Linked DNA regions of Homo sapiens. The gene in region 6 interacts genetically with the main gene of each other region. Each region holds a gene or a part of one and is shown on either strand. Other genes may lie near its edges. The genes, in order: SLC16A10, A1BG, CSAD, CCR6, ATAD1, REV3L and LMTK3.

The links.
Region 1: changes in REV3L (region 6) and SLC16A10 impair growth when combined (synthetic growth defect), as found in Homo sapiens cells (one large-scale study listed by BioGRID).
Region 2: changes in REV3L (region 6) and A1BG impair growth when combined (synthetic growth defect), as found in Homo sapiens cells (one large-scale study listed by BioGRID).
Region 3: changes in REV3L (region 6) and CSAD impair growth when combined (synthetic growth defect), as found in Homo sapiens cells (one large-scale study listed by BioGRID).
Region 4: changes in REV3L (region 6) and CCR6 impair growth when combined (synthetic growth defect), as found in Homo sapiens cells (one large-scale study listed by BioGRID).
Region 5: changes in REV3L (region 6) and ATAD1 impair growth when combined (synthetic growth defect), as found in Homo sapiens cells (one large-scale study listed by BioGRID).
Region 7: changes in REV3L (region 6) and LMTK3 impair growth when combined (synthetic growth defect), as found in Homo sapiens cells (one large-scale study listed by BioGRID).

Annotation. Positions count from the first base shown.
Region 1 is NC_000006.12:111,216,043-111,220,557, reverse strand, and holds part of SLC16A10 (monocarboxylate transporter 10), read right to left. Parts: intron 1,745-4,515; coding exon 1,516-1,744; intron 1-1,515. UniProt on the Homo sapiens protein: Sodium- and proton-independent thyroid hormones and aromatic acids transporter.
Region 2 is NC_000019.10:58,347,538-58,351,457, forward strand, and holds part of A1BG (alpha-1B-glycoprotein precursor), read right to left. Parts: coding exon 3,854-3,920; intron 3,115-3,853; coding exon 2,833-3,114; intron 104-2,832; coding exon 1-103.
Region 3 is NC_000012.12:53,173,963-53,178,477, forward strand, and holds part of CSAD (cysteine sulfinic acid decarboxylase), read right to left. Parts: intron 1-4,515. UniProt on the Homo sapiens protein: Catalyzes the decarboxylation of L-aspartate, 3-sulfino-L-alanine (cysteine sulfinic acid), and L-cysteate to beta-alanine, hypotaurine and taurine, respectively. The preferred substrate is 3-sulfino-L-alanine.
Region 4 is NC_000006.12:167,132,760-167,137,047, reverse strand, and holds part of CCR6 (C-C chemokine receptor type 6), read right to left. Parts: intron 1,011-4,288; 5' UTR 914-1,010; coding exon 905-913; intron 809-904; coding exon 1-808. UniProt on the Homo sapiens protein: Receptor for the C-C type chemokine CCL20. Binds to CCL20 and subsequently transduces a signal by increasing the intracellular calcium ion levels.
Region 5 is NC_000010.11:87,807,562-87,812,076, forward strand, and holds part of ATAD1 (outer mitochondrial transmembrane helix translocase), read right to left. Parts: intron 1-4,515. UniProt on the Homo sapiens protein: Outer mitochondrial translocase required to remove mislocalized tail-anchored transmembrane proteins on mitochondria.
Region 6 is NC_000006.12:111,378,056-111,382,570, forward strand, and holds part of REV3L (DNA polymerase zeta catalytic subunit), read right to left. Parts: intron 3,390-4,515; coding exon 3,270-3,389; intron 2,165-3,269; coding exon 1,927-2,164; intron 1-1,926. UniProt on the Homo sapiens protein: Catalytic subunit of the DNA polymerase zeta complex, an error-prone polymerase specialized in translesion DNA synthesis (TLS). Lacks an intrinsic 3'-5' exonuclease activity and thus has no proofreading function.
Region 7 is NC_000019.10:48,490,791-48,495,305, reverse strand, and holds part of LMTK3 (serine/threonine-protein kinase LMTK3 precursor), read left to right. Parts: intron 1-1,196; coding exon 1,197-1,612; intron 1,613-3,766; coding exon 3,767-3,902; intron 3,903-4,060; coding exon 4,061-4,198; intron 4,199-4,515.

The DNA.
Region 1 (4,515 bases), 160 kb from region 6:
TCATGACTAGGAATACAGTTCAGGGTATGAGAATGAATTGAGCTAAACCTTCACTGAGCACCTCATGTGCCAAACACAGATGACAGTACACACATTTAAATTTTATCATATTTATACTGAATCTTCTAATACTAATTGACACAGGCACCCAAGTAATACTGAACATAGGACATCTTTATAATATCATTCAGAGAATTTCTAGAGGTGGAATTCACATGAAATAGAATTAACCATTTGAAAGTGAACAATTCAGTGGCATTTAGCACATACACAATGTTTTGCACCCACTGCTTCTATTTAGTTCCAAAATATTTTCATCATGCCAAAAGGACACTTCATTCCAATTAAGTAGTTACTTCCCAATCCCTTTCTCTCCAGCCCCTGGCAGTCACCAGTTTTCTATCTGTATGAATTTACCTATTTTGGATATTTCACATGAAATAAATCATACGATATATGACCTTTTATTTTGAGACAGGGTCTCACTCTGTCACCCAGGCTGGAGTGCAGTGGTGCTATCACGGCTCTGCAGCCTTGATCTCCCAGGCGCAATAGATCCTCTCGCCTCCGCCTCTGGAGTAGGTGGGACTACACTAATATTAGTATGTGTCACCATGCCAGGCTAATTTTTTTTATTTTTAGTAGAGACAAGGTCTTGCTATGTTACCCAAGCTAGTCTGGAACTCCTGAGCTCAAATGATTCTCCTGCCTTGGCCTCTCAAAGTGCTGGGATTACAGGTGTGAGCCACCATGCCCAGCCACGTCACCTTTTATGTTTGGCTTCTTTCACTTAGCATAATGTTCTTGAGGTCCATTCACCTGGTAGCATCAGTTCTGTACCTTACTCCTTTTTATGGCTGAATAATATTGCACTGTAGATATTCCACATTTTGCTTACCCAGTTAGGTATTTACAGGCATTTGGGTTTTTTCTATCATGTTATTTTTCATCAACTACTCCTCAGGGGGATGTATGATCTCTTACCAAAAGCCGACATATTTAGAAATCTTTCAGAATCTTCAACTTTTTTTTTTTTTAAAGATAGGGTTTCGCCTAGGCTGGGGTACAGTGGTATGATCACAGCTCACTGCAGCCTTGACCTCTGGGCTCAAGCAATCCCCCCACCTCAGCCTCCTGTGCATCTGGGACTGCAGATGCATGCCACCACGCCTGGCTAATTTTTTTATTTTTTATTTTTTGTAGAGATAGTGTCTCACTATGTTGTCCAGGCTGGTCTCAAGCTCCTGAGCTCAGGTGATCTTCCCGCCTCAGCCTCCCAAAGTGTTTTATATAGTGTTTTAGCTGCCAGTAAGGATAAGAGGGACTCTTCAGCAAATTCAACATACTGTTTAATAGCTAGTCTTATTAAAAATGTTACCAGTAAGGCACACATAAAAGCAAAAGACCAGTAATCAATAACCTGTAATATGTTTTACATATAAATGAGACTTAATTAAGACCTGAAGTAGAAAATACTATGAATTAATATAACTACTGGAGAATCATTATATTTACCTGCAATGGGTGGGCCAACAGTCATGGGTATAGACATGAATCCGAGCAGAAATCCAATTGCTTGGGAGACATCCTGGGCACCAACTAACTCAAAGGCTATGGGAGCCATAATGGAAATGAAGCATCCATCGAAGAGACCCATGATGAGGCACACAGCAATGAGGGCCCCAAAGATGCTACACAGAGGAATCATCATGGACATCAGACCAATGAAGAAAAAGGAGAGTACCTAGGACGGACACCACAAGGTCAGCTCCGCTCGCAGGAAGCAAATGTCACAATTACCATGCAACATGCTTAGGACTTCTAAGTCATTACTGGTTCCCCCTTTCCCCCCTGCCACTGCCTCATTCACTTTGATTTTACATACATAATCAACTCCTATAATCATCTCCTTCGAGTTCCCCTAGACATTTTCTCAATATTTCCATTAAGGGACAAGATTAAAAAAACGTATTGTTTTTGAGCTGGAGTCTGTCTCTGTTGCCCAGGCTGGAGTGCAGTGGTGTGATCTCAGCTCATTACAACCTCCGCTTCCCAGGTTCAAGCAATTCTTCTGCCTAAGCCTCCTGAGTAGCTGGGACTACAGGCAAGCACCACAAAGTCCAGCTAATTTTTGTATTTTTAGTAGAGATGGGGCTTCCCCATGTTGGGCAGGCTGGTCTTGAACTCCTGACCTCAAGTGATCCACCTGCCCGGCCTCCCAAAGTGCTGGGATTACAGGCATGAGCCACAGCGCCTGGCCGAAAATGACTTTTTATATATTTAATTTCCCTCCCAGCCTGCAAATCCCTTGAAGTCAGAATCTGTACCAAAAAAAAAATTCATCTTTGGACTAGATATTATGAAGTTTAAGGATCCTGTATCTGGTCAGTGCTCAATCAGCTCAAATTCATTAAACACTTGATTTTTTTTTAACCTTTAAAACTATGTATACTTCACTGGCAGAGATTATAGATAAATTTAAGCACCCCAGAGTTAAGGCTTATTATATTATTTTGAGCCATTGAACACTTTCAGTTCAGTGTTAGAGTAGTTAATAGAATTGAACACCTGATTTTGCCTACTATTTGGTAGGCACTGTGCTATGTGCTAGAGGTTTCAACAATGAATAAGATTTCGTTCCTACCCTTGGGTTATGGAAAGATGGACATTTAAATAAATAAGTGCAAGTGAAGTGTTTATATGCTGCCGTAGTTATATATTCAAAGTATGATGGGTACAAAAAAGGAGGAAACAGTCAATTTAATAACTTTTTTAAGGCACAGAACCTGTTAAAACTGAACCATTCATGGCCGGGCACGGTGGCTCATGCCTGTAACCCCAGCACTTTGGGAGGCCGAGGTGGGCAGATCATGAGGTCGGGAGATCGAGACCATCCTGGCTAACAAGGTGAAACCCCGTCTTTACTAAAAATACAAAAAAATTAGCCGGGCGTGGTGGCCGGCGCCTGTAATCCCAGCTACTCGGGAGGCTAAGGCAGGAGAATGGCGTGAATCCGGGGGGTGGAGCTTGCAGTGAGCCGAGATCATGCCACTGCACTCCAGCCTGGGCGACAGAGCGAGACTCCGTCTCAAACAACAACAACAACAACAACAACAACAAAAACTGAACAATTCACTAGTCAGCAGAAAAAATTTTTAAAAGCATCAAGTTTTTTAAAAGTATGCATATAATAGCAACTATCATTTATTTAGTGTTTACCAAGTGCCAAGCATTGTTGTAAGCACTTTAGATTGATTATCTCACTGGTGATCCTCATAACAACTTTATGAGGTGGTACTAATGTTATCTCCATTTTGCTGATGAAGATAGTGACGCTGGGAGAGGTTAATGTGCCCAAAGCACAGAAGATGGAGCCGTCCTGGAACCATGGCCCACGGGGGCAGCAGCAGGCTGTGAACAGAACTGTGCCTGGAGGGTGCCCTCCAATAGCAGTCAGGCTAGGGAGGAAGGAGAGACCAGATAAAGCAGCTGTATGCATCACTGTCCTCATCTGTTCTGTTTTTCCTAGGCCCTACTAGCACACCTACGGACCTACGGAAGCTGGAGGTTGGTAGTACACCTCGGGGCAGCCACTCACAATCTGAGGGCCTCTGAAGGTGCAGAGTGTGAGTTCTGGGTGGAATTCAGGAGTGTTGGTTTTCACAACTTTAACACAAGTGGTCCACTGACACCAAAATAGGAAACATGCTCCTGAAAACTGTTTCATATTGGGTTAGTTCTTTTTGACACCATCATATCATACAGTTCGGTACATTTTTTCTTCAATCACTAAACTATGGTCTTATGGTAAAATTATGATTCGTTTAGGAATACGAGTTGGCCGGCTGGGCGCGGTGGCTCACGCCTGTAATCCCAGCAGTTTGGGAGGCTGAGGAGGGCGGATCACGAGGTCAGGAGATCAAGATCATCCTGGCTAACACGGTGAAACCCCGTCTCTACTAAAAATACAAAAAAAAAAAAAAAAAAGTTAGCCGGGCGTGGTGGTGGGCGCCTGTAGTCCCAGTTACTCGGAGGCTGAGGCAGGAGAATGGCGTCAACCCAGCAGGCGGAGCTTGCAGTGAGCCGAGATCGCCCCACTGCACTCCAGCCTGGGCGACAGTGTGAGACTCCCTCTCAAAAAAAAAAGAAAAGAAAAGAATACGAGTTGGGCATTTGAAAAATAAGCCTAGCACTTCACACTAGCATTTCAAAAGAACAAAATCTCCCCATTCTCCTGACTTTTGTTTGCCAGTTAAATATCCTTTTCTCCAATGCAACTTCCATGACAGCACAAGCATAATTTCTTAGTGGTGAGTAATTGTTGGGCCTACAGCCTGGCAGGTTGGAAAGAACTGGGGCTCAGAGGGACACTACCAGGTTCTAAGCTCTCTATGACCTTGAGCAAGTAAAAAGACTTCCTGATACTTCCCATTTATTGAGACAAAAAGAGATTTAAAGATAAATCAAAATGTAGAAAAGGGTTTGAAATTAACAAGCAGGTAAAGATTTAAGTAG
Region 2 (3,920 bases), on a different chromosome or scaffold from region 6:
AAGGTGACGTCGGGGATGGGTCCCTCGCAGCGCAGGACGGCATCTCGGCCCGCCAGGACCGCCCCACTCCACGTCGCCCGGAGCTGAGGCCTGGGAGGGGGTCCTGGGCGGAGCGGGCGGGTGGTCGGGCCAGGCCACGCCCCAGGCCACGCCCCAGGCCACACCCCAGGCCACACCCCAGGCCGCGCCCGCGCCTGCGCCTCAGCCCCGGCTTCATCTTCCCTGTCTTGTTCCTGGGCGCAGAGGGCTCCTCCGGCGCCGCCGAGCTGCGCCCGCTGCCTTCACACCCCGGACATCCGCGCCACACGTGAGTGTCCCCGCACCCCTCCCCCAGGACCGTGGAAGTCCCAGATTCGGGCCTGCTCTGGGGCTTCTGGGGTCCCCAGCCTCGGTCACTCTGACGGGTGAAGGGAAGAAGAAATGATGGAGAAAACGGTGCTCCTTCATGGAGGGACCAAAAAAGGACATACAATCTATGTCAATAGATGAGGGTTTTCCCTCCATAAGTTTAACTTTAAAAGTGTATTTAAGGTGCCGGGCGCAGTGGCTCACACCTGTAATCTCAGCACTTTGAGAGGCCGAGGCAGGCGGATTGCCTGAGCTCAGGAGTTCCAGACCAGCCTGGGTAACACGGTGAAACCCCGTCTCTACTAAAATACAAAAAATTAGCCGGGCGTGGCAGCGTGCGCCTGTAATCCCAGCTACTCGGGAGGTGGAGGCAGGAAAATTGCTTGAACCTGGGAGGCAGAGGTTTCAGTGAGCCAAGATTGCGCCACTGCACTCCAGCCCGGGTGACAGAGTGACACTCCGTCTCAAAAACAAACAAACAAAACAAAACTGTAAGGAATCAAATGTTACAAAATCCTGGAAGATTTTGGTAATGCTGTTGATAATTTCAGGGAAATTAATGAAGTACATGTAAGTGCTTGATTTAAATGTGTATTTTATTCAATAGTTTGAGTATCTTGCCATGGAAGATACTAGCCCAGCCTAGCAGAAAAGTGCAATATGTATAATATACTTTCGCATTTTAAAAGTTATATTCCCTATCCATTTTGAAATGCTAGCCAAACTACATGAAGTTATTTGCAATTAATTGTAAGCTAATCAGGAATTTTGAAAGCTTGATTGGATTAACAAACTATAATGTTGAAATTTGGTAAAATCATAATGTTAATTTTTACTGTGAAACGTTTTCTTGTAAGATAGATATACACATCCTAGTTTAATTTTGTGTCTTAGTGTGGATTTACAAATTTACTACAGTTATTCTGAGCCCAGGAACCCAATCAGATTTCAGGCCAGTTTGATACTGGCTGTTCTTAATTCTAACAGGAGAGTAGGACATCATACTAAATGTTATGTCAGTGGGACTGTGTTGTCTTTGGAGCTTAGTAAATTAATCATTTTCTTCAGACTTTAAGGAGAGTGATAAATAAAATTTGGAGTCATAGGATATAGATGTACAATTTAAAGATTAAACATTTTTTTTTTTTTTGAGATGGAGTTTTGCTCTTGTTGCCCAGGCTGGAATGCAGTGGCATGACCTGGACTCACTGCAAACTCCACCTCCCGGGTTAAAGCAATTCTCCTGCCTCAGCCTCCCAAGTGGCTGGGATTACAGGCATGTGCCACCACAGCTGGCTAATTTTGTATTTTTAGTAGAGACAGGGTTTCTCCATGTTGGCCAGGCTGCTCTTGAACTCCTGATTTTGTGATCCACCCGCCTTGGCCTCCCAAAGTGCTGTGATTACAGGCGTGAGCCACCTTGCCTGGCCAAGATTAAACATTTTTCATCAATTGTGGATGGTGGCTTATAACACTGCAAGAATAGGCTGGGCATGGTGACTCACAAGTGTAATCCCAGCACTTTGGGAGGCAGAGGCGGGCAGATCACAAGGTCAGGAGGTCAAGACCAGCCCAGCCAACATAGCAAAACCCGGTCTCTACTAAAAATACGAAAATTAGGTGGGCATGGTGGCATGCGCCTCTAATACCAGCTACTCAGGAGGCTGAGGCAGGAGAACTGCCTGAACCCAGAAGGCGAAAGTTGCAGTGAGCTGAGACTGCACCACTGCACTCCGGCCTGCAAGAATAAAAGTAAGTTATCCAAAAAAAAAACAAAAAGGAGAAGAAAAGGGAGGAATGAAGGAGAGAGATGGGGTTGGGGGGCAGAGATGAGAGAGAGAGAAAGAAGAAAAAAGAAGAAAGAAAAGAGAGAAAGAAGGAAGGAAGAAAGAAAGAAGGAAAGAGAAAGAAAGAAAGAGGAAGGAAGGCAGGAAAGAAAAGAAAGAAAGTGAAAGAAAAGAGAAAACGGTGCTCCCAGCAAAGGGTACGACCTCAAGATCTGGAGGTCAGACCTGTGCCCTCACGCTCTGCTGGGCTCTGAGTCCTGGAGACGTCGATGAGGAAATCAGAGGGACAAACAGAGCTGGGGACGGCGGGGATGGGGAGAAGGACACATCAGCCGTGCGCCTGCGGGACCGGGGCCGGGGCGGGGGGTCCAGTATGACGACTGACATGGCCAGTAATAAAACAAGGCAGCCACAGAGCTGCAGGGATCTGAACAAGAAAACCTGGGGCCAGCCTCCCTGCTGCCGACCACCACGCTACACGTGACCTACGGGCTTGCGTCCGTGGGAAATAAGCCGAAATTCCAGGCGTCCCCAGACCCTCGACCACCGATCGCCTGCTCCCCGCCGGGGTAGGCGATGGGGGCTGAACCAAGGCCCAGAGCGCCGCCGTCGGACGCCCAAGGAAAGAGGGGAAAGACAGGAGGCCCCGAGGGGCACTGAACCCGCGCCCGCCCTCGCTGGTGCCCCGCCAGCTCACCGTCCACGTGCAGCTCCAAGCGCTCGCTGGGCGCGGAGCCCCCGAAAGGCGGCTTCAGGTCCACGTAGACGCAGCTGTAGTTGGCGGAGTCAGCCACGGAAATGTTGTGCAGCTCGAAGAGCGCCTCGGTCCCAGCGGGGCTCTGGAAACGGTGCACGCGGCGCCCGCCCCTGTCCTCGCGCACCAGGGCGAAGCGCGCGCCCTCCAGGGGCGCCAGGCACCGCAGCCGCAAGGCCCTGCCGGACTCCGGCTCCGGGGAGAACTCCGGCGCGGGCAGCGTCTCTGCGGAGCAGCACACGGGCTGACCCGGGCGCCCAGCGGCTGGCTCGGCCCTAACGCGTGGTCTGGCCTCGCGCTCTTTGCCTTGGCTGAGTCTTCTGCCCGCAATGACCTGGCCAGCTTCCTCCCTCGCCTCCTCCGGGCCCGCCCCACCTTTGCATCCCAGTCCTTGGATATCTCACACGCACCCTTTCACTGTTTCTTAGTAATTTGTTTGTCTACAGACACAGACGGGAAGCGGGGACGGGGACATGTTTTGTGCATGGCTTGATGCCTGGTGCACGATGCCGCTCAGTAGTGGATTTGCTCCACGAGCGTCTTCTGAGCACCGCCCCAATGCCCGCCCCACGGAGGGGCCCCTGTGGTCCGCTGGGCATGGGGTTCGCTGTCCGGTGCTCAGAGTTTGCTAAATACCATCAGGTCCAAGGCAAGCGAGCGGAGGAGCTGCCTCAGCAGAGGCCCTCAGTGCTCACCTAGACCTGGCAGCTGGGATGGGACCTGCCAGGTGGTGCCCCCTGTGGCCTGGGCCAGACCTGTTCACCCAGTTATTCCCTGTGGGGCCTGAAGGTTGTCACGCTCATCATCATATTTGCAGTTTAGGACCCTGAATCGGCGGGTGGGCGGATAAAGTTGGTATTGGACCCTGGCCCAGAGCACTGCACTTCCCCAGACTCTACACCTGGTACTGCTCCTGCTCCCCAGGGACCCAGCCGCGTCCCTGTCCCTGCTGGCCCCGGCTCACCATCGCTCAGAATCAGCTCGACCGGCGCGCTGTCCCCGGACCAGCCGTTTTGGTTGTCATGCAGCCG
Region 3 (4,515 bases), on a different chromosome or scaffold from region 6:
ATCTACTTTGTTTCTGTAGATTTGTCTAGTCTGGCCATTTCATGTAAAACGGGTCATACAGGCCAGGCGCAGTGGGTCACGCCTGTAATCCCAGCACTTTGGGAGGCCGAGGCGGGCGGATCACGAGGTCAGGAGATCGAGACCATCCTGGCTAACACGGTGAAACCCCGTCTCTACTAAAAATACAAAAAATTAGCCGGGTGTGGTGGCGGGCCCCTGTAGTCCCAGCTAGCTACTCTGGAGGCTGAGGCAGGAGAATGGCGTGAACCCGGGAGGCAGAGCTTGCAGTGAGCAGAGATCGCGCCACTGCACCCCAGCCTAGGCGACAGAGCGAGACTCCATCTCAAAAAAAAAAAAAAGAAAAAAAGAAAATACTGAAAAAGAAGGAAAAAGACTTCAAAATATTCATTTGTGGCTATTTCTGGGTGTTGTTATGGATGATTTTTAAGTTTATTATTTATACACATCTATATTTTTATAACTTTATACAATCATTTCACATTGCTTATGGAATTAAAATAACGGTTCTTTTTAAACAATATAAAAATTGTCCGCGTGTGGTGGCTCACACCTGTAATCCCAGCACTTTGGGATGCTGAGGTGGGTGGATCACCTGAGGTCAGGGGTTTGAGACCAGCCTGGCCAACATGGCGAAACCTCATTTCTACTAAAAAATACACAATTAGCCGGGCGTGGTGGCGGGTGCCTGTAATCCCAGCTACTCAGGAGGCTGAGGCAGGATCCACCTGAACCTGTGAGGCGGAGGTTGCACTGAGCCAAGATGGTACCACTGCACTCCAGCCTGGGCGACAGAGTGGGACTCCATTTCAAAAATATATATATATATGGAGGAATTAAGGGGGTACAAGAATTCTAAAATATACAAATCATCAGGCTCAAGGAATGTCCCTTGCACATCATGTGGTTTCCCAACTCCTCAATCCACTGTTATCAAAGGTCTAATGGAAGGCAAAGGGAGCCACACACTGCTCATCTCTATTACGCAACCCCTCAACCCCCGCTGGCTCTCAGGGAAGGGAATGGGTTCAGTTTGTTCAGCAAACATTGACTGAGTGTTGTCTACTTCTGAGCGCCTGGCTGGCATTACCCTAGGTGCTGCATCTGCCCTGTGGGCTCCAGCTAACAGGCTGGCAAGAGAGACCTGCATGTAAAATAAAGGGAAATTGCCACAAGAGGGAGTTGAGAGGTCACCATGGAAAGGCAGGAAAGTTCAACTGGCCCAGGACAGGCTTCAAGGACAAAACACTAAGGCTCTCCTTAAGGCAATAGAGAGCTGGTGCAGGAAAAGACTCAGCAGGAGTCATTGCAATGCTATTTGAATAAGTGATGGAGTGGGCCTGAGGGAAGAGGGAGTTAGGGAAGGTCACACAGGAGGAGGCCTGCCTGGGGACAAAGGGATCTAGGCAATTGTCTCCTGAAGCGCTCTCAGCCAGGTTTATGGTTAGAAAGCTAAAGTACTCTGTGCTATCTCCCAATCAACAAACCCTAGTGGCTCCACACCCACATTAATAAAGGCACAAACTCTCCTATGTATACAATCTTTTCTCTGCTTCTAGACTGTACTCTCCTGGGTGGAGAGAACTAAGTCTTTTCCTTCATTAAGTAAACTAATAGAAAACAGGGACCCCTCAAATGTTAGTTTCCATCTTCTTGATTGTCCTCTCCCCTCCCCCAGGGACTTGCACAGAGGCATTACATAAACATTTGTTAAATCAATCAATGATTTGCAGGTACTGGAAAAAATGCTGCATTCTACTTACATTTGATTTGCATCAACCAAGAATCTGTAGTAATGATAATAGATTTGCAAAGGGTGTTTTTCCTTCTCATTTATTATCTTATTTGACCTTCACAATAGTATTAGAAATTAGCCTAAATAGGTATTTATTCATTCTTGTTTTCAAGATGAGGATTCTTAGCTGAAAGAAGGTGAACTAATTGTCCAAAATTACAAAGGTGACATGGGAACAAGCCTAGATCACTGACTTTCTGACTTTAGGCTACCTCTTCCACTGCATCACAGGTCCGTGTGGCATTTCTCACTATTTCTCATCATTGACAAAAATTAACTGCAGCTAAGATAAAGACAGAAACTGAAAATATACAACCATAAGAATACAAGAAGGGGGGGTGAGGGGCGGGCACAGTGGCTCAAGCCTGTAATCCCAGCACTTGGGAGGCCGAGGCAGGTGGATCACCTGAGGTCACCTGAGGTCAGGAGTTCGAGACCAGCCTGACCAACATGGTGAAACCCCGTCTCTACTAAAAATACAAAAATTAGCCGGGTGTGGTGGTGCATGCCTGTAATCCCAGCTACTTGGGAGGCTGAGGCAGAAGAATCGCTTGAACCCGGGAGGCAGAGGTTGCAGTGAGCCAAGATCGCACCATTGCATTCCAGCCTGGGCAGCAAGAGCAAAATTCCATCTCAAAAAAAAAAACAAGAATACCAGAAGGGGCTGGGAGCAGTGGCTCACGCCTGTAATCCCAGCACTTTGGGAGGCCAGGGCGGGTGGATCACGAGGTCAGGAGATCGAGACCATCCTGGCTAATATGGTGAAACCCCATCTCTACTAAAAATACAAAAAATTAGCCCGGCATGGTGGTGGGCACCTGCAGTCCCAGCTACTCAGGAGGCTGAGGCAGGAGAACGGCGAGAACCCGGGAGGCGGAGCTTGCAGTGAGCCGAGATCATGCCACTGCACTCCAGCCTGGGTGACAGAGCGAGACTCCATCTCAAAAAAAAAAAAAATATTTATTTATTATTTTAGAGAATAAGTTTTGCTGTATCACCCAGGCTGAAGTGCAGTAGCACAATCATGTCTTACTGCAGCTTCGAACTCTTGGGCTCAAACAATTCTCCCACCTCAGCCTCCTGAGTAGCTAGGACTACAGGCACATGCCAGCATGCCGGGTTAATTTTTTAATTTTTTGTAAACAGGGTCTCACTATGTTGCCCAGGCTGGTCTTAAACTCTTGGCTTCAAGCAATCCTCCCACCTCAGCCTCCCAAAGCACTGGGATTACAGGTGTGAGCCACCTCGCCTGGCCAAAATATAATGTTTTTATTGTGAATCAGATTATTTATTCTATGGTATTTTAGTGTTGGTTATATTCTTATATTTTATTTATATAATTTTTGTTTGTTAATCTGACATCTGGTCATGTTGCTGAACTCCATAGTTTTGATACATTGTCAATCGTTTCTCTTTGTAAGATGAATATATATGAAATCAAGGAGGCTTTAGGGTGGCCAGGAGCTCTCCTAAAATCTTAGTTTTAATAGTAAACATCCCTGGCTTGTTCCTAGCAAAGACAGAAATGTTTCAAATATTTTCCCATAAAGCATGACTTTTGTCTCAAAAGCTGAAAGATAAGTGAAAAAGAGAAAATATTTTAAATGCAGACGACAAAGAATAGTTATTATCCATAACACAGACAGGATTTCTACCATCAATAAGAAATATACAAATGATCTACCTTTTTTTAATGGGCAAAGGATATGAACAGACAGTTTACAAAAACAATTAAAATGGTCAAAGAGCAATAAAATAGTCCCACCTATTTGGAAGGCTGAAGTGGGAGGATCACTTGAGCTCACGAGTTGGAAACCAGCCTAAGGCAACAAAGCGTGGAGACCCATCTATTTATTTATTTATTTATTTATTTATTTTTTGAGACAGAGTTTCGCTCTTGTTGCCCAGGCTGGAGTGCAATGGCACAATATGGGCTCACTGCAACCCCCGCCTCCCGGGTTCAAGTGATTCTCCTGCCTCAGCCACCTGGTAACTGGGATTACAGGCACGTGCCACCAAGCCCAGCTAATTTTTTTGTATTTTTAGTAGAGATGGGGTTTCTCCATGTTGGCCCAGCTGGTCTCAAACTCCTGGCCTCAGGTGATCCGCCCACCTCGGTCTCCCAGAGTGCTGGGATTACAGGCGTGAGCCACCGTGCCTGTCCAGAGACCCATCTCTTAAAAAAAAAAAAGGCAATAAGAGAATATTAACTTCACTATTAATGACATGAAAATTAAAACAAATACTATTTTTCACCCATTAAACTAGTAACTGTATAAAAAATTCATAGCATACACTAAACATTGCCAAAGTTGTAGGAATAGGGAACATTCACACATGGTTCTGAGTAAACATGGGAGTTGTTACAAACTTTTACAATTCATTTTCACAGAATCTATTAAAATTTACATATCCGGCCAGGCATGGTGGCTCAATCCTGTAATCCTAGCACTCTAGGAGGCCGAGGCCAATGGATAGCTTGAGCCTAGGAATTCGAGACCAGCCTGGGCAACATGGCAAAACCCTGTCTCTACAAAAAACAAAAAAACAAAAAAAAAACTACAAAATTATCCAGGCACAGTTGCCCACATCTGTAGTCCCAACTACTTGGGAGGCTAAGATGGGAGGATTCCTTGAGCCCAGGAGGTTGAGGCTGCAGTGTGCCCTGACTGCACCATTGCACTCCAGCCTGGGCGACAGAC
Region 4 (4,288 bases), about 56 Mb from region 6:
CCATGTTATGAGGAATCTGACAAGCCAGAAACACAAGCACCACAGCTATGATTACACGGATGGCTTTGTGCCTTTTAGAATTCTGAGCTTGCACCAAGGTTTTGACAATGAACGTGTAACAAAATATCATGAACATCAAAGGGATAAAGAAACCAAAGAGTAGCTCAAGCCCCAACATCAGCAGCTTCCACCTGATGGGCTCCGAGACAGTCTGGTACTTGGGTTCACAGACATCGCTGCCTTGGGTGTTGTATTTTTGGTTGAAGACAAAAGTTGAGCTGGAGATGATGACTGACAGCCCCCACACAACAAGGCAGATGATTTTGCTGCGCGGTAGTGTTCTGGATCGGAGCCGGAATGACTTAGTCGCCTGTACAATGGCGATGTACCGGTCCATGCTAATGCAAGTCAGGAGCAGCATCCCGCAGTTAAAGTTGATGGCATAGATGCCTTTTAGCAACTTGCACGTGGCATTGCTGAAAACCCACGCACCGGTGGCATGACTCACTGCCCAGAATGGGAGAGTAAGAACAAAGAGGATGTCTGCAATGGCCATGTTCAAGAGATAGACGTCTGTCATAGACCTGGCCTTCTTATAAAAAGCAAAGGTGATCACCACCAGAATATTCCCCAGGAGGCCAAAGACACAGATCAAGGAGTAGGCAATCGGTACAAATAGCCTGGAGAACTGCCTGACCTCCTGCAAGGAGCACAGTAACATCTCAGAATCAACTGAGTAATATGAAGTATTGACTGACACAAAATAATCTTCACTGGAGTCGAAAACATCGCTGAAATTCATTGATTCCTGGAAAGGAAACAAAGATAGAGTTAGCTGCAGTGTAGTGTTCAAGTAGCCACAGTGAACCCAAATTATACCCCTTGCCAAAAATAAAAATCTTACCCCGCTCATTGTGGGCAGAAAAAATGCAAGCTGGTTGTAGAAAAAGGAGTGTATGGTTCAGCCCCTTCAGCTCACAGGCAGCGGTAGCAGGAAAGTAGAGGTGACTCTAAGAAGGAAAGAAGGCAAAATGCACTACAGTTAACACAGGTATTCCTGGAGAGCCAGACAGTTAAGTTACCAGCATTCCATCTCGTGTGAACAGAGTGCACAGCACACTATTTTACATACAAATATTCATTGAGAATAGGCATCAGCAACCTCTTTCTGTAAAGGGCCAGATAGTAAATATTTTAGGGCTTTTCAGGCCATATGGTCTCTGTCACAGCTCCTCAAATCTGCCTTTGGAGCTTGAAAGCATCTACAATTACATAACTGAACAGGCCTCGCCGGGGTCCGTTGGCTAGAGGCTATAATTTGCCAACCCTTGATCTATTGGTTAAATAAGGTGCTCTCAGAAATCCACAAGTTTTGATCTGCACAAAAATCTTTACGCAAAATTTAAAAACATTCAACAAGATTTTACTGAACAAAATCTATAGAAGTGTGAAAGCGCATAGAAAATGTATAATTCATAGTCCCGGGCTTTAAATCGTTCACAATATATGTCAGTGATGATCACCCCTGTGGGCATGTGAGAATCTCCAGTAGAATTTAAAGTTTGACTATGAGTGCTGTTCTCAAGACACACTGAACAAGCTGCTCCAGCCTGGGAAGGCGCTGGAGAGGAATGCACCTGCTTCTCCACAGCCGCAGACCTTTCCAGTAGACATTCCAGGTCACAAGCATGAATCTGCTGTGGCAGAGGCATCCTAATCATCAGAAATCCAAATGCCAGAGGAAAGGTGGAGGCTGGCACAGTTAGGAAAGACTTCCTGGAGGAGGAGGCTCTGATCAGGGTTCTTGGAGAATGGTGAGGCTATGGGCCAATGATTGACAGAGAACCGCCATCTCCTTCAGGTGACCAGCTCGTCTCAGGCTGAAGAGCAGTCCTGAGTCATGAGCCCTGTATGTTTGTGAAACAGCTGAGCAACCAGCCTGGCCGAATCAACTGGATTGTCAGGAAACAATGGAGTATACCGTGTGCTGGGAACGCCAGCAGTGGCGGTGCATGGGTCCAGGCTGAAGAAGTTTAGCAGGAGACCGGGAAGAGCTGGAGCGGTTGTGGAGCGCCTGAGGACGAAGGGCTTTGAAATCCACCATCTGAAGCAAACTTAAAAAGAAAGAAAAACCCTTCGCTATTCTCAGGCTCACTCCTTCTTTCCAGCATTGTCCATCATCCTGTTTATTAACACGCCCTGGACGTCCCCCAGTAAAATCCATGGCCTGAAACGCTCTGATATTGACGTTGGATGTGCTTCCCAGCCAATCGCCCATCTTCCTCCTCTTTTCCCTGCTCTCGCACCACGTGGGCCTGGCCATGCCAAGCGGGAGCAGCTAGGGAAGTGCAGCCCCAGGTGCACAGGCAGAGAAAGTGGAACTGCCCTCCTCGCCCCCACACTGTGTCATATCAGTCCTCACTTACGAGTCCACGTGGATACTGACCTTTTGGAGAGGAAGCCCATGTAACACAAAGTTCACCCTGAATTATTTTCCAAACCTATTTCTTACATAATTTTGATTCTCATTTCATTATTTACTCCACCCCATTCCTTCCCTGATGCCTGGAGTCACAACTTAGAGATCGGTTCTTCACTGCCCCTCAGTCACTGCTTTGGGCCTAAAAAGCTGGAGGAAGGTATGGAGTCACCTCTGCACTTTTGTAATCCCAGCAGGTATACAGTTGAGTGCTTTAGAGTATGCAGAAGAAGCGTGGTATAGACCCCTGTGTTGCAAAAGCATGTGACGAGGTAATCGTATCAATCAGAAGAAGCACAGCAATCAGAACACCACTGCTAAACTTCAGCTTCCAGCCACGGTGGATCAACAGAGACCAAAGGCACCCTGCTGCATTAAACAACTAGAAAAACCTACAAAATGTAACAACCATTTTCAGACCTCGGCACTAGGCATCACAGGATTATGGATCCTGGCAGGAGGAGAACAAATACAGTGAGAAATGATACACACTCTTTCTAAGCTGCAGAGCATGGCAGGGGTGGAGGGCATGGGAGGTGAAATATACAATATGTAAAATAAAATACACCAATTGGAATTACCATTTGGATGTTAAAACTATATATATATATATATATATATATATATATATATATACACACATATATCATATATAATAGTATCAATAATTATATATACAATTGTATCATAAAATGTAAAATACTTATGGATAGCTCTAACAAAATTTATGTGAGATTTATATGCTAAAAACTACAAAACATTGTTGGCAAAAATTAAATAAGACCTAAATTAATGGAGAAATTTATCATGTTCAATTTTCAATGACATTTCATGTTCAAATTTATCAAAGATTCAATTTCAAGATATAATTTCTCCCCAAATCGATCTGTAGATACAACATAAACTAAATCAAAATTATGGTAGGGTTTTTTTTTTGAGAAATTGACAAGTCAATTCCAAAATTTTTATAGAAATTCAAGGAAATTAAAATAGCCAAAACAATTTTGAAAAAGATAAAAAAAAAATGGAGGACTCACACTACCCAGTCTCAGAGCTGACAAGGAACTACACTAACCATGACGGTGTTGGATTTCTGAAAGGACAGTTACATAAATCACTGGAACAGAACAGAGGCCAGACATAGATCCACATATAGATGGCGGACTGATTTTTAACTTAGGTGCCAAGGTAACTCAATGGGAAAAGAACAGTCTTCAGTAAATGGTCCTGGAATGACATGAACAAAAAGTCGATCCTTACTGCTTACCTCACACCATTTGCAAAAGGTAACTCAAATGAGTTATAAATCTAAATGTGAGAGCTAAAGCATAAAACATCTAGAAGGAAAAATGGGAGAAAATCTTTGTGACCCTGGAAAAAGAAGCTTCTTATATAAATTGCAAAAAGAATGAACTGTAAAAAAATTGATAAATTGTACTTGATTGTACAAAATGTAAAACTTCTGCTCTTTGAAAGACACTCAAGAAAGTGAAACATATATATATTGAATAGAAAAAAGTATGTTAAAGCTTATATCTGATAATAGGTTATATCCAGAATATACAAATAATTTTTACAACTCCCTATCAAAAACATAAACAATAAGAAACAGGGGGAAATGTGAACAGGCAATTCACCAAGGAAAATACATGGATGGCAAATACACACACAAAAAAGACGCTCAATGCCATTAATCATGAGGAAAATGCAAATTAAAACCACAATGAAGGCTGGGAACAGTGGCTCAGGCCTGTAATCCCAGCAATTTGGGAGGCCGAGGCAGACGGACCACTTAAGTCCAGGAGTTCG
Region 5 (4,515 bases), on a different chromosome or scaffold from region 6:
ATGTTTATTGACCACTGGAGATTTTTCTTTTTTAATGTGTCTATTTAAGTTTCTTTGCCCATTTTTCTATTATTTTTTCTTACTGATTCAGATGCATTCTATATATGTCCTCAGTACAAATCTTTTAAGTTATAAAAATAATAGGAAACACTTATGCAGCACTGTTATATTTTACATTATATATTTAATTTCAATAGCAACCCAACAAGGTAAGTGCTATTATTATTTCTTTTACAGATAAGAAAACTCAAGACCCAAAGTAGTTAAATAAAACTTTGTGTTTTAGGATTGCCTTCCCTATTTATAGACTTTTGTTCTTCCACATGAATTTCAGGAAAAAATACAACAAAACGAAAATCTGCCAGTATTTTTGTACTGATGTTGAATTTAACTAAACTTTCAATAGTTTTATAATTTTCTCTATGAATGTGTTGTATGTCTTATGTTTGTCCGTTGTTTTATATTTTTGATGCTACTATATAATGCTTTTTTTAAATGACATTTTAAAACATGATGGGTATACAGAAACAGCTGATTTTCGTATACTGATTTTAAATCCAGCAAACCCATCAAACTCTCATGAATCCTGATAGCTTGTAAACATTCTTTGGCTTTCTATGTAGATTATCATATTATCCATTAATAATGACTATTTAGTTTCTTCTTTTCCAATCCCCACCTTTTTGACTTAGGCAGTGGCTAGTAACTCAGTAAAATGTTAAACAGAAGTAAAAGTAAACAAAGAAGTAAACAAAGTAAACAAAGAAAAGCCAAAAAAAAAAAAAAAGTAATGAAAAGTAATGAAAGACAACAGGCTTGCTCCTAATCATAAAGAGAATGTTTCCAATTCTTCACTATAAAATACATTTGTTTTAGTAAATGCATTTTATCAAGTTAAAGATCGCCTGAAGCCGGGAGGCAGAGGTTGCAGTGAGCCAAAATCATGCCACTGCACTCCAGCCTGGGCAACAGAGCAAGGCTCCGTCTAAAAGAAAACACAAAAAACAAAACAAAACAAAAAGAACACTATCTTCTGTTCCCATTTTATTAAAAGCTTTTCTAAAACCATGAATGAATGCTTAAGGCCTTTTCTGCATTTATTGGGAGAATCATACAGGTTTTATTCTTTAATCTGTTAATGTTGCATATTATATTGATTTCCCATCCCTTAAATGAAGCCAGGCTTAAACTCCTGGGATAAATCCAACTGGTCGCATTATATTTTTTCTATATTGCTGAATTTAACTTGCTGACATTTAAGATTCTTATACCAATTTAGAAGGGAGAGAGAGAAATTACAGACTACTATAGGTTTTAGAACTGTAGTTATGCTAGCCTCACAAAAAGGTTTGGAAGTGTTCCCTCGTTTCCTATATTCTAGAAGAATTTGCATAAATTGGTTATTATTAATTTGTTCCTTAAATACTGGCAGAATTTGCTATAAAGTTCTATGGGCCTGAAGTTTTCTTTATAAAAAGATATTTTCACTATTAACTTATTTCATAGTTATGGAACTAACCATGTATTCTATTTCTTCTTAAGTCAGTTTTAGAAATGCATATTTTTCTAAGGGTTTACCCATACCTAAGTTCTCAAATTTATCGACGTAACAGTTGACCCTTACACAATACAGGGATTGGGATACTGACCCCAACACACTCAAAAATCCATAGAGAACTTTTGACTCCCCTCAAACTGAACTACTAAAATAGCCTACTGTTGACCTTATCACTAACAGAAACAGTTAATAACATAGTTTGTATACTGTATTCTTGCAATAAAGTAACCTAGAGAAAGCATGTTATTTAAAAAATCATAAAGGGAAATATATTAACTTCATCCTCATCATCTTCATGTTGAGTAGCGTGAGGAAGAGAGGTTGGTCTTTCTGTCTCAGGTTGGCAGAGGTAAAAGAGGTGAAGGTGGAAGGAGTGGCAGGAGAGACGGGCACACTCAATTGAACTTTCATTAAAAAAAAAAAAATCTGCTTATGAGTGGACCTATGCAGTTTAAACACGTTGTTTGTTGTTCAAGGGCCCACTATAGTTATGAACAGTCCTAATTTTTTTTATTTATTAATTTTATTTATTTATTTATTTATTTATTTATTTTGAGATGGAGTTTCTCTCTTGTTGCCCAGGCTGGAGTGCAATGGCGCAATCTCGGCTCATTGTAACCCCCGCCTCCTGGATTCAAGCGATTCTCCTCCTGAGTATCTGCGACTACAGGAACATGCCACCACGCCCGGCTAATTTTGTATTTTTAGTAGAGACAGGGTTTCACAATGTTGGCCAGGCTGGTCTCAAACTCCTGACCTCAGGTGATCTACCTGCCTCAGACTCTCAAAGTGCTAGGATTACAGGTGTAAGCCACCGTGCCCGGCCCTTGTTTTTAATATCTACAGCAATATTAGGCCTTTTTTGTTCCAGGTAGTATTTTATTGGTAACTTTTTTCTTGTCGGTTTGAAAAGTCTTGATTTTATGTCTTTTCAAAAAAACAATTTTGGGTTTTATTGATTTTTCTCTACTGTATATTCACTTTCTATTTCATTAACTTATGTTATTATTTCCATTCATTTCATTATTATGTGCTTTCTTTTACCCAGGAGTCATTTTAAAATATTTCATACTTTCCAAACTTATTTTTCTAATGATCTCTACTGTACTGCACTATAGCCAGGAAATGTTAATAAATACGCTACCAATATTATGAAACTTGAGATTTGCTTTATTATCTAGTATTCGGTTTATTTTCACAAATCATATGTGCTTCAGATATGTATTTTGCATTTATTTTGGCACAATATACTATACATGTCCATTTTTTATTTAAATCTTCTATATCCTTAATTTTTAAAAAATCTGAACAATTATTAGGTGTTAAAAGTCTCTCACCATGTTGATGGAGATGTCCATTTTTCCCTGTAGTTATATCATATTTTTGCTTTATGTATTTTCAGGCTACATCAATAGTTACACACAAATAGAAATGTTATATTTATTGGTGAATTGAATCTTTCATCATTTATGTAGCAAACATTTTCTCCAATATCTTTGCCTTACAATTTCTTTTTGCCCAGCCAGTTTTCTTCTTATATTTGTGTGGTATATACATTTCCATCTTTTTACTTTCAACCTTTCTGAATCTATATTTTAGATGTGTTACTTCACCCAGCATATGGCTTAAATTTCTCTCTTTAAACTATTCATCTTTAAAACACTGTGTCTTTATCTTTAGTTGAAATACTACAGATAGCCTTTTGGGGTTCTAGATTTATAGGAGTATCATCTATGAAACTACCTACTTTAGATTGGCCCTATGTTTTGTATACTGAGCCCCTCTGAAATCATAAAAACAGAATTCAGCAAATTCTCTCAAGGTAAAGGCTGGCAATCAAGCTCACCTTAGCTTTCTGAAATTTTTGCCTTAAGTTTTTAACCTGCATTCTTTACTTTGTTGATAGCTCATGAATGCCTTTAAGATTTTTAGGCCAGACACAGTGGCCCACACCTGTAATCTCAGCACTTTGGGAGGCCAAAGCGGGCAGATCACTTGAGGTCAGGAGTTCAAGACCAGCCTGGTCAACATGGTGAAACCCCGTCTCTACTAAAACTACAAAAATTAGCCACGTGTGGTTGCACACTTCTGTAATCCCAGCTACTCCGGAGGCTGAGGCAGGAGAATCACTTGAACCCGGAAGAAGCAGGGTACAGCGAGCTGAGATTGTACCACTGCACTCCAGCCTGTGCAACACAGCAAGACTCCAACTCAAAAATAAATAAATAAATAAATAAATAAAACAAGATTTTTAAAAAATTATCAAGCTTCTTTAGCTGTTTTCAGCAGGAGTCAGTCTTGTTACCCATACTGACCTATTCATTCTTCACTGGCTGCACATCATCTTTCTATACCCTAAATAAAGGAAATGTATCAAGGCTTACGCTTCAGCTTACCAATTATGCTGCATTACACCACCTCTTTTGGAGACTTCATCACTCTTAGTATAGTCATTACCATTTATTACAGTGACAATTACATTAGAATTTCTCAACAAATATATGTATAAATCTTGATGGTGGTGAGGGGAGATGGGGAATAATTTGGGAAAAGTTCTACAAATGATATCTACACATACAGGAATAACCATATGGCCTACTCACTGTTCTAACGACTTCAACTACTTATAACCATCGATAAGGAAATATACCTCTGGATTGACCTTTTTTCTGAGATTCAGACCTGCAACTTCAATTGCTATATGAACATTTCCTCCTGAATTCCTACCACCAACACAAACCCAACATGGCCAGATCAAATGTCATCTTCTCATAAATTTGCCCTACCTACCAGTTTCCAAACCTCTATAAAAGATATTATAAGTCTTTGAGGTATCCAGACAAATCTTTGGTTCGTTTTTAAGATTTTAAGATGTCCTTTTTCTTTTCCCACATCATCACAAAGTCCTTCCTGCATTCATTTGTGTTAGTCTATTTCACTCAAGTCATTCCTTTTGT
Region 6 (4,515 bases):
AGTAACTTACAAAGAGTTATTATAATTAGACTTCATAATCCCTTTCATGTGAGCTAAAATACACCACAATTCCTGCATTCTGAATTGGAAGAAACAAGAATAAAAAGATGAGTGAAGGGGCATTGAGGTCAGGGCTGAAGAGAAAATGCTGAAGAAGAGAGAGGGTAATAGGAAGTAGTAAAGGTGTTCAGTCAACCTGACAATAACTACAAAGGGTTACTGAGAAATTCAGATGGACAGTGAAGTCCAGTCTTTAAGTTTCATCTCATATTGGTATTAACTTGATGTTTTCCCTTTTAATTGAATGGGCAAACTTTTTTCCTATCCATACCCAATTTTTTCTTTCACTAATCTCAACAATTTGAAATTATTATTATTTTATTATACTTATTATACTGGAACTGTTTTTCCATTAAGCCTTTCCAAATCACAATTTATCATAAAAATCACTCCCTTAAGAGCTGAAAGAGGTATCAGAGGTCCAGTCCAACTTTCTACCCAATGCGAAAACCTCATTTTTAACGAACCTGACACAATCTCTGTTTTTACATAATCTGTATAAGGGGCTTGCTGTCTCACAGGGCAATCTTTCCACTGTTAATGGCTTTAATTATTCATAGTTGTCTTCTTGTAATACACAAACTCTTTCAACTTCCATACATGATTCCTATTTTGTTCTCTGTAGCTATACAGAGCAGGTTGATGTCATTTTCCACATGATAATCTTTAAAATACATAAAGGCATTTCTCATTCATCTTGTAATTCTAATTAGATCAAACATTCTCCATTCAAAAGTTCTTCAAAAGTGACAATGCTCACAGATCCTTCTAGTTTTCTTCCTCTTCTTTCCCTTTCCTTTTTCAGTATTCTTAAAATATGGTACTCAGCACAGAATATAATATCCAATATAAAGAGCAGAATTAACTAAACCCTTTTCTAGACACCATGCTTCTACTATTCAATCTCTCTCTAATATATGTGTACAAAATGTTTAGGTTTGTTTTCCCAAGGTTAAATTGGGCATGGTTTTCACCAAATTGGTTCAGCCACTGAACATACAAACATAAATTTAATCATAGGATTGACTATGCCTATTATTACAGCAGTGACAATGTTAGAGGAAAGAATTTAACATCACATCTGGAGATTTCTATATCTGATTTATTAAGTAGAAAAATAAAAACTTTCATCATATACATGTAAACACTGAATTTATGGATTAACCTGTTTCACCTTTCAGTGATGGCTTTGGGTTGGAAATTTCAAATACAGACTAAAAAAGTTCTAATCTAGCCTATAGAAGTTTAAAGGAGAGGCATACTCAGTCTTTCAGGCTCATAGGCCTAGATTTTTCTATACACAGAGCATATAACTAAAGGGCAGACTCAAACCAATCAAGTTCACAGAGACTGATTTAGAAAACCACAACACCAACTTATTCATTTATTTTGAGAAACAAACCACAACACCAGTGTTTGCTTCTTAGTCTTTTATTTATTTGTTTTTAACCTTAGTTCCCTTAGTCTAATCAGAGCCCAAAACCATACCCTGTCTTCAGGCTGACTCTATACATTGTTGTTCTGATACCCAACAGTTCAACTATCACAGGGCATTCTTTTTCTTAAGTTCTAAGATAAGAAGGCACTTCAATTTTGCTCCATTTATCACTCACATATGTTAATACTGTGTATATAAATGGATAACTTCTAAAAGTTAGGTTAATCTTTTAAAATGTAGCAAAACTTTATTTTGCTTGGAATATGGAGTATACGCCATATGAAAAACAGATCACTAAAGGGGAATTTTAAAACATCAATTTAGTTCATAAGGTATTTTATATCATGAACAATAGTAATAAATAATTTCTGATTGAAGGACAATAATGATAAAAGTTAATAAAACAACTGCAATAACTAAAAAATTACCTCTTTTTGGCACAATGTTCTTCAATATTGCTGTCCCATCTCTGGGACATCACCAAACTAAGCTCCATTTCCTCTTTTTCAATCTGTGGTTCATTTTCTTCATCATCACTATTTTGTGGATATTTATTATTTCCAAAGGAGCGACATGGTGATGGCATCCTATTTCTTTCCCCCCGATATCCATCACTTTCCAAACCAGCAAGAAGATGTACCAGAGCCTCATCAGGACTACTGTCCACTATAAAACAAGTACAATAATCACCAACAAATAAGTTTTCTTTTTTTTTTTTGACACGGAGTCTTGCTCTCTCACCCAGGCTGGAGTTGGAGTGCAGTGGCGTGATCTAGGCTCACTGCAAGCTCTGCCTCCTGGGTTCATGCCATTCTCCTGCCTCAGCCTCCCGAGTAGCTGGGACTACAGGTGCCCGTCACCACACCTGGTTAATTTTTTGTATTTTTAGCAGAGATGGGGTTTCACCGTGTTAGCCAGGATGGTCTCGATCTCCTGACCTCGTGATCTGCCTGCCTCGGCCTCCCAAAGTGCTGGGATTACAGGCGTGAGCCACCACGCCCGGCCTGTTTTCTTAATAATCCAACAATTCAGATCACTCAGAATAAAATAACAACATCATAGATACTGGCACAGGCTGAAAGAATACAGTTGGTACAAAGGCTCAGGTGTTGAGGTAGCTCTCCTATCAAAGTTGATCCTTGGACCACCTGCATTAGAGTAATTTAGGGACATTATTAAAATAACATTGTTGTGTGCTCCAGCCAGGGCTGCCTGGGACTGCACAGGGTCTTGGCCGTGGGTACAGCTCAGCACTGTCAGCCCCTAGTTGGGAGGCCTTGCCAGGGAAGGCTGGCAGTGGCTGCAGGAAGCCTGAGATGCCACTCAAGGGGAGGCCACTGAAGGACTGGTTGAGTGCAGCCCTGGCCAGTGAGATGAGGAGGCTGGGACCATGGCCCTAGCCACCCGTGTTTCCTCCGGTGAAATTTGTGATACTCACCAAGAAAGAACCACTTATGGTGTTTTAGTAATGTACTGAACTTTGCAAAATATTAATTCAAAATAAATGCATTTTCCTTCTTAAGTAATACGGTTTTCCGTGAATCAAAGTACAGTTAAAAAAACTATTTTCTTTCACAAATTTTTTTAAGCTGTATAGAAAAAAAGCAAAGCTACTTGATTTAATGCAAGGTTTCATTTTCATATTCAGTAGAGTGTTTACTGAACATGCAACATTTACCTCTTCAAGTCAATAAAAAAAAAAATGCCTCTTCACAACACACATTTTCTCTGAATTACAATACTGAATATTTATGGTAGCACTGTTACTTACTGAAAACAGGTGACTCACTCAGTCTTTGGGTCAAAGGCTGAAAAGTCTGACTATTTTCCATAAGGTTCAAAATTGCTTCTTCATTAATAAGAGCTTCTTCCACTTTGTGTCTAGTGTGACCTTAATTTGACAAAGAATAAAAAAAATTGAAGCAATGGCCTAAATCCAAAATTTATCATTTAGAATTTGTGTAAATTTGGAAGCATTACCATATAAACCTATTTTAAATTTCAAAATGTTAATGATGCATGCCAAATAAAAACATAATAAAAAGCCACAGAAATATTTAACCAGTCACATGGATTTATCAAAACAAACACTGAATCTATAAATCACCAAATATTTATAACCTCTTTAATCCTACTTAATGTGTGTAGTTATATTACTCTGATAAAAATCACTGCATATTCAAATATATAAAGTGAAAAGGAAAGATAAACTATCTTATTTGAATACTAAAATTCTTTATTCTCTATGGTTCAAAAACAACAAATTTAGAATAAATGTTTTTGAACTCTCCTAGAAAAAAAAAATTGACAGTGCTCATTATTTGACACATGTGTATTGGACTCTCTTTTGAATGCATAAAAAATAAAGAGCTTAGTGTAATCCCTAATGGGGCGTGTGTTGGTTTTTCATGCCTGTTTGTGAACTGTAGTTGTGGTTTCCCATTTCATTGCCATAACTGGGCAGAAATAGTTTTTAAGTGCTATAAAAATACAAAGAAATGGTTAAGCAATTAAAAAATTCATTTTACATTAATATTTTTCAGAAAGCTTTCATTATATATCACATTCATTACATTTTCATGATATCAAAAAATATTAGTCCATGTGGCCATATGGAATCCTCCAACAATTGCCGTCCCCTGAAGGAACACCAAACTGAACTACCCACACAAGAAAGCGCCTTCATTAGAATAAAAAATCAGGAGAGCAATCACAGTACTTGGTTTTAACAACGTATCAAGGAAAGAGGCAGCGAAGAGGGTAGAAAAGACAGTCGTGAATTGCTGACAGCACCTCCCATCTCTCAGGCAGTGGTCTTGAGGCACGGAGAGAGAAATCTGTGCTTAGGAGAGACAGAACAGAGTGAATATGGGACTTTGCTTTGCATTGGAACTCAGTGCTACCCTGTCACAGTGGAAAGCAACGTCCCTGTCACAGTGGAGAGCGACACGGTATAGAATTTAGCCAGCACCCATGAGGAGAGGATTTGACCAGCCCCAGCCAGAGGGAAACTGCCC
Region 7 (4,515 bases), on a different chromosome or scaffold from region 6:
GGGTGCGGTGGCTCACACCTGTAATCCCAGCACTTTGGGAGGCCGAGGTGGGAGGATCGCCTGAGGTCAGGAGTTCGAGACCAGCCTGGCCAACATGGTGAAACCCTGTCTCTACTAAAAATACAAAAATTAGCTGAGCGTGGGGGCAGGCACCTGTAATCCCAGCTACTCGGGAGGCTGAGGCAGGAGAATCGCTTGAACTCAGGAGGCGGAGGTTGCAATGCGCCGAGATCGTACCACTGCACTCCAGCCTGGGCGACGAGAGCAAGACTTCATTTCAAAAAAAAAAACAAAAAAAACACTCCCTCTATGAAGCATCGCCCATAACCCCATCACCCTGAGATGTCTGGTCAACAAAAGTGTGACTTTTGAGCAGATGTGAAGGAAAGGAGGGAGTGAGGCAGGTGGACATCGGTGGGAGAGTGTTCTAGAGAGGGCACTGAGATGTGCACTGGCTCACCATGTTTAGAGAATAGCAAAAGGTAGTAAAACTTGAGTAGAGAGAACGAGGACCTGAGAGGGACCGTCTGCATTCATCTTTCTCCCTGCCCCACCTCCACCCTCCTCTTGCCCCTGCCATCAGCTCAGAAAGGGCAGTTCACTTATGCAGTAATGGAGGGCTAAGTGACCCTTGTTCATTTGCCAGTGAGGAAACAGAGGCTCAGAGAGGTGGATCTGGCCGGGTGTGGTGGCTCATGCCTGTAATCCCAGCACTTTGGGAGGCCAAAGAGGGCAGATCATAAGGTCAGGAGTTCAAGACCAGCCTGGCCAGCATGGTGAAACCCCGTCTCTACTAAAAATACAAAAAATTAGCCGGGCATGGTGGCACGTGCGCCTGTAGTCCCAGCTATTCGGTGGGAGGAATGGTGGGGTGGCCCATGTGGCTAGATGGAGGTCAGGCCAGAGGAGGTGGGGACAGAGGCCAGAGAAATCAGGTAGGCCAGGGCATGAGGGCCTGGTGGGCTGTGGGAAGTTGCGGCTTAAAGCCGTTGGCACTGGGGAGCTCTGGGGAGGTTGAGCACTGGAGAGGACCTTTCCCACCCTGCCTGGAGAAGCCCTGGTGCAGCCCTTCCGTTCACAAAGTGGGTGCTGAGGCCCAGATTGTGCGGGGGTCTTATCTGAGGCCACACAGCTAGGTGGGAGGGCCTGCCTCAGTTTCACCGGGACAGGGGCTCACCAGGTCTCTCCCCTCGCAGCCAGGCTCTCCCGGCTCTCGCTGGCGCTGCCGCCGCTCACGCTCACGCCATTCCCGGGGCCGGGCCCGCGGCGGCCCCCGTGGGAGGGCGCGGACGCCGGGGCGGCTGGCGGGGAGGCCGGCGGGGCGGGAGCGCCGGGGCCGGCGGAGGAGGACGGGGAGGACGAGGACGAGGACGAGGAGGAGGACGAGGAGGCGGCGGCGCCGGGCGCGGCGGCGGGGCCGCGGGGCCCCGGGAGGGCGCGAGCAGCCCCGGTGCCCGTCGTGGTGAGCAGCGCCGACGCGGACGCGGCCCGCCCGCTGCGGGGGCTGCTCAAGTCTCCGCGCGGGGCCGACGAGCCAGAGGACAGCGAGCTGGAGAGGAAGCGCAAGATGGTCTCCTTCCACGGGGACGTGACCGTCTACCTCTTCGACCAGGTGCGGAACCCGAGAGGGCGCGGTTTCGGGGTCGCGGCCTGGAGGGAGCAGGAGCCTAGAGCCGGGAAGGGCCTGGCGGGAGGCCGAGCTTAGAGTTGGGCGGGGCCTGGAGGGAGGCGGAGCTGGAGTGGGGCGGGGCCTGAAGGGAGGCCGAGCTAGGGTGGGGCGGGGCCTGGAGGGAGGCCGAGTTAGAGTGGGGCGTGGCCTGAAGGGAGGCCGAGCTGGAGTGATGCGGGGCCTGGAGGGAGGGCAAGCTGAATTGGGGTGGGACCTAAGGGGAGCCCCAATCTAGAGTGGGGCGGGGCCTGGGGCGGGGCCGAGCTAGAGTGGGGCGGGGCCCAGGGAGAGGGCGGGCTGGGGGGCGGAGCCCAGGGCGGGGCCTGGAGGGAGGTCGAGCCTAGAGGTGCAGGGCCTGGGGCGGGGCCTAGACGAAGGCTGAGCTTAGGGTGGGGCGGGGTCTACAGCAGGGTTTGAAGGCAGGCTGAGCCTAGAGCGGGGGCGGGGCCTGGAAGGAGACCGCGCCTAGGATCGGGACAGAGTCTGGATCCGGGCCTGAGGGAGGCCAAGTCTGTGGCGCGGCAAGAGGAGGCCTGGAGAAAATCCAAGGCTGGAATGGGGGCGGAGCCTAGGGCGGGGCGGATGGAGCAGGGCGCGGGAAGGGCCTGAGGGGTGAAGGCGGGGTCTGGGGAGAGACTGGTCAGGGAAATGGGGCGGGACTAGGAAGATGGGAGGAGGCTTTGAGTGTGAGGGCAGGGCCTGGCAATGGGGCAGGGCCAGGAGTATGGGCCGAGCCTAGAGCTGGGGCGGGACCTAGGGTGAGGGCAGGGCTTGTGACGGGGGCGTGGTCTAGAGGGCGAGGAGAGGTCTGGAGAGAGAGTGTGGGTCTGGAAGGAAAGAGGGGGTACTGGGTAGTCAAGTATGGGATCCTGGAGAGGCTAGGGAGGAAGTGTTGAGAAGAGGCCTGGATGGTGAAGGGGCCTAGTGAGAGTTTGGGCATGGTTTGTTGACTAGAGTTCTAGTGTCTGTAGGCTGGTTCGGGTTGGAGCAGATCTTACCCACTAGGGAAGGGCCATGGCTAGGCTGCAGGTGGGCTTCAGAGATGGAGCAGGCAGTCTTAACGTATTCTGGGGTGAGGTCAGGGATGAGCGAACCTAACGACTGGGACGGGTCTTTAGAGAGATGGGTTGAGGAATGTGTTAAGAGTTAGGCCTGTCCCGGGTGGCTCACGCCTGTAATCCCAGCACTTTGGGAGGCCGAGGCGGGAGGATCACTTGAGGTCAAGAGTTCGAGACCAGCCTAGCCAAAATGGCGAGACCTCGTCTCTTAAAAAGAAAAAAATTATCTTGGTGTGGTGGTGCGCATCTGTAGTCCCAGCTACTTAGGAGGCTCAGGTGGGAGGATCGCTTGAGCCCAGGAGGTTGAGGCTGCATTGAGCCATGATCACAACACTGCTCTCCAGCCTGGGCGACAGTGAGACTCTGTCTAAAACAAAAAGAAAAACACAGGATATGGTGTTGAAGAGAAAAAGGGAGGGCGAGTGGTGCTGAGGAACTGGGACCTTGTCTAGATGAACCTGGGGCGGGCATACTGGGCTGAGATTATGAAAGGAATGGAAACAAGGCCAAGAACTGGGGCCTGGGCCACTGAAATGTTTTCAGAGGGGTGGGACTTGGAGGGCGGGAGCAGGTCTACTTCTGAGGGAGGGCTCAGGGGCAGGGTCACAGCATCCAGCACGGCATGCGCTCAGGATGGGGCAGGGGTTGGGAGGGCCACTGGAGCAGGTCAAGATCTCAGAGGTGGGTGGGACTGACGTGGACGGGGTGGGGCTTATGGAGATCGCTTTGGGTTAGGGGATCCGGTGGAGGCCTCACGTTAATGAGCCAGGAGAGAATCCCTGCGTTGGGCTACTTAGCTGTGCGCGGGGCTCCGCTGTCAGGAAAGGAGCCTCTGGCCAGGTTGAGGTTAAGGCTGGCCCAAGGCTTCGAAGCCAGATTAGGGGCTCCAGCCACCTCTCCAGAGCGTGCGAGTCAGTGATTACAAATTGGGATTCCTAGAGCCCCAGAAATATTAGCCGGTTTTGTTGCTTTTGGGGGATGCGGTAAATGGGACGTGAAGGTTTGTCCCCTCTGGCTTCCCCCTAATCTGCCTTCACAGGAGACGCCAACCAACGAGCTGAGCGTCCAGGCCCCCCCCGAGGGGGACACGGACCCGTCAACGCCTCCAGCGCCCCCGACACCTCCCCACCCCGCCACCCCCGGAGATGGGTTTCCCAGCAACGACAGCGGCTTTGGTGAGGACGGGCCCTATGGGGCGGGAGGGGGCGGGAGCCATGGGGCGGACGGGGCGGGGTCTATGGGGTGGGAGGGGCTTGGTCGGGAGGGGCGGGACCAGAGGGCGGGAGTGCCGCAGGTGTCTGCAGCCTGACCGCGGTCTTTCCTTCTGCCGCAGGAGGCAGTTTCGAGTGGGCGGAGGATTTCCCCCTCCTCCCCCCTCCAGGCCCCCCGCTGTGCTTCTCCCGCTTCTCCGTCTCGCCTGCGCTGGAGACCCCGGGGCCACCCGCCCGGGCCCCCGACGCCCGGCCCGCAGGTACCATATCCTCGGCCCTGCCCCCTCCTCTGCCCATCTCTGTCCCCCTATGTTCCACTGCCAACTTCTTGTGACCATCTTTCAATGTCCCTGCCTCTCTCTTCCCAGTCTCTTCTCTCTCCCCTCTCAGTCAACAGACACCCCACCCAGCTCTGGAACCAGCTCAGACCAGGCGACGTCCATCAGACGGTCGTAGGCAGGCAGGCCGGCCGTCCCCAACCCCCGAGCCTCAGTTTTACCTTCTGTGGGGATTACCCCCACCCCCGACTCTTGCCCATCTTTGTCCCATCTCTGGGCTCAGACTCCGGCCTGGCACT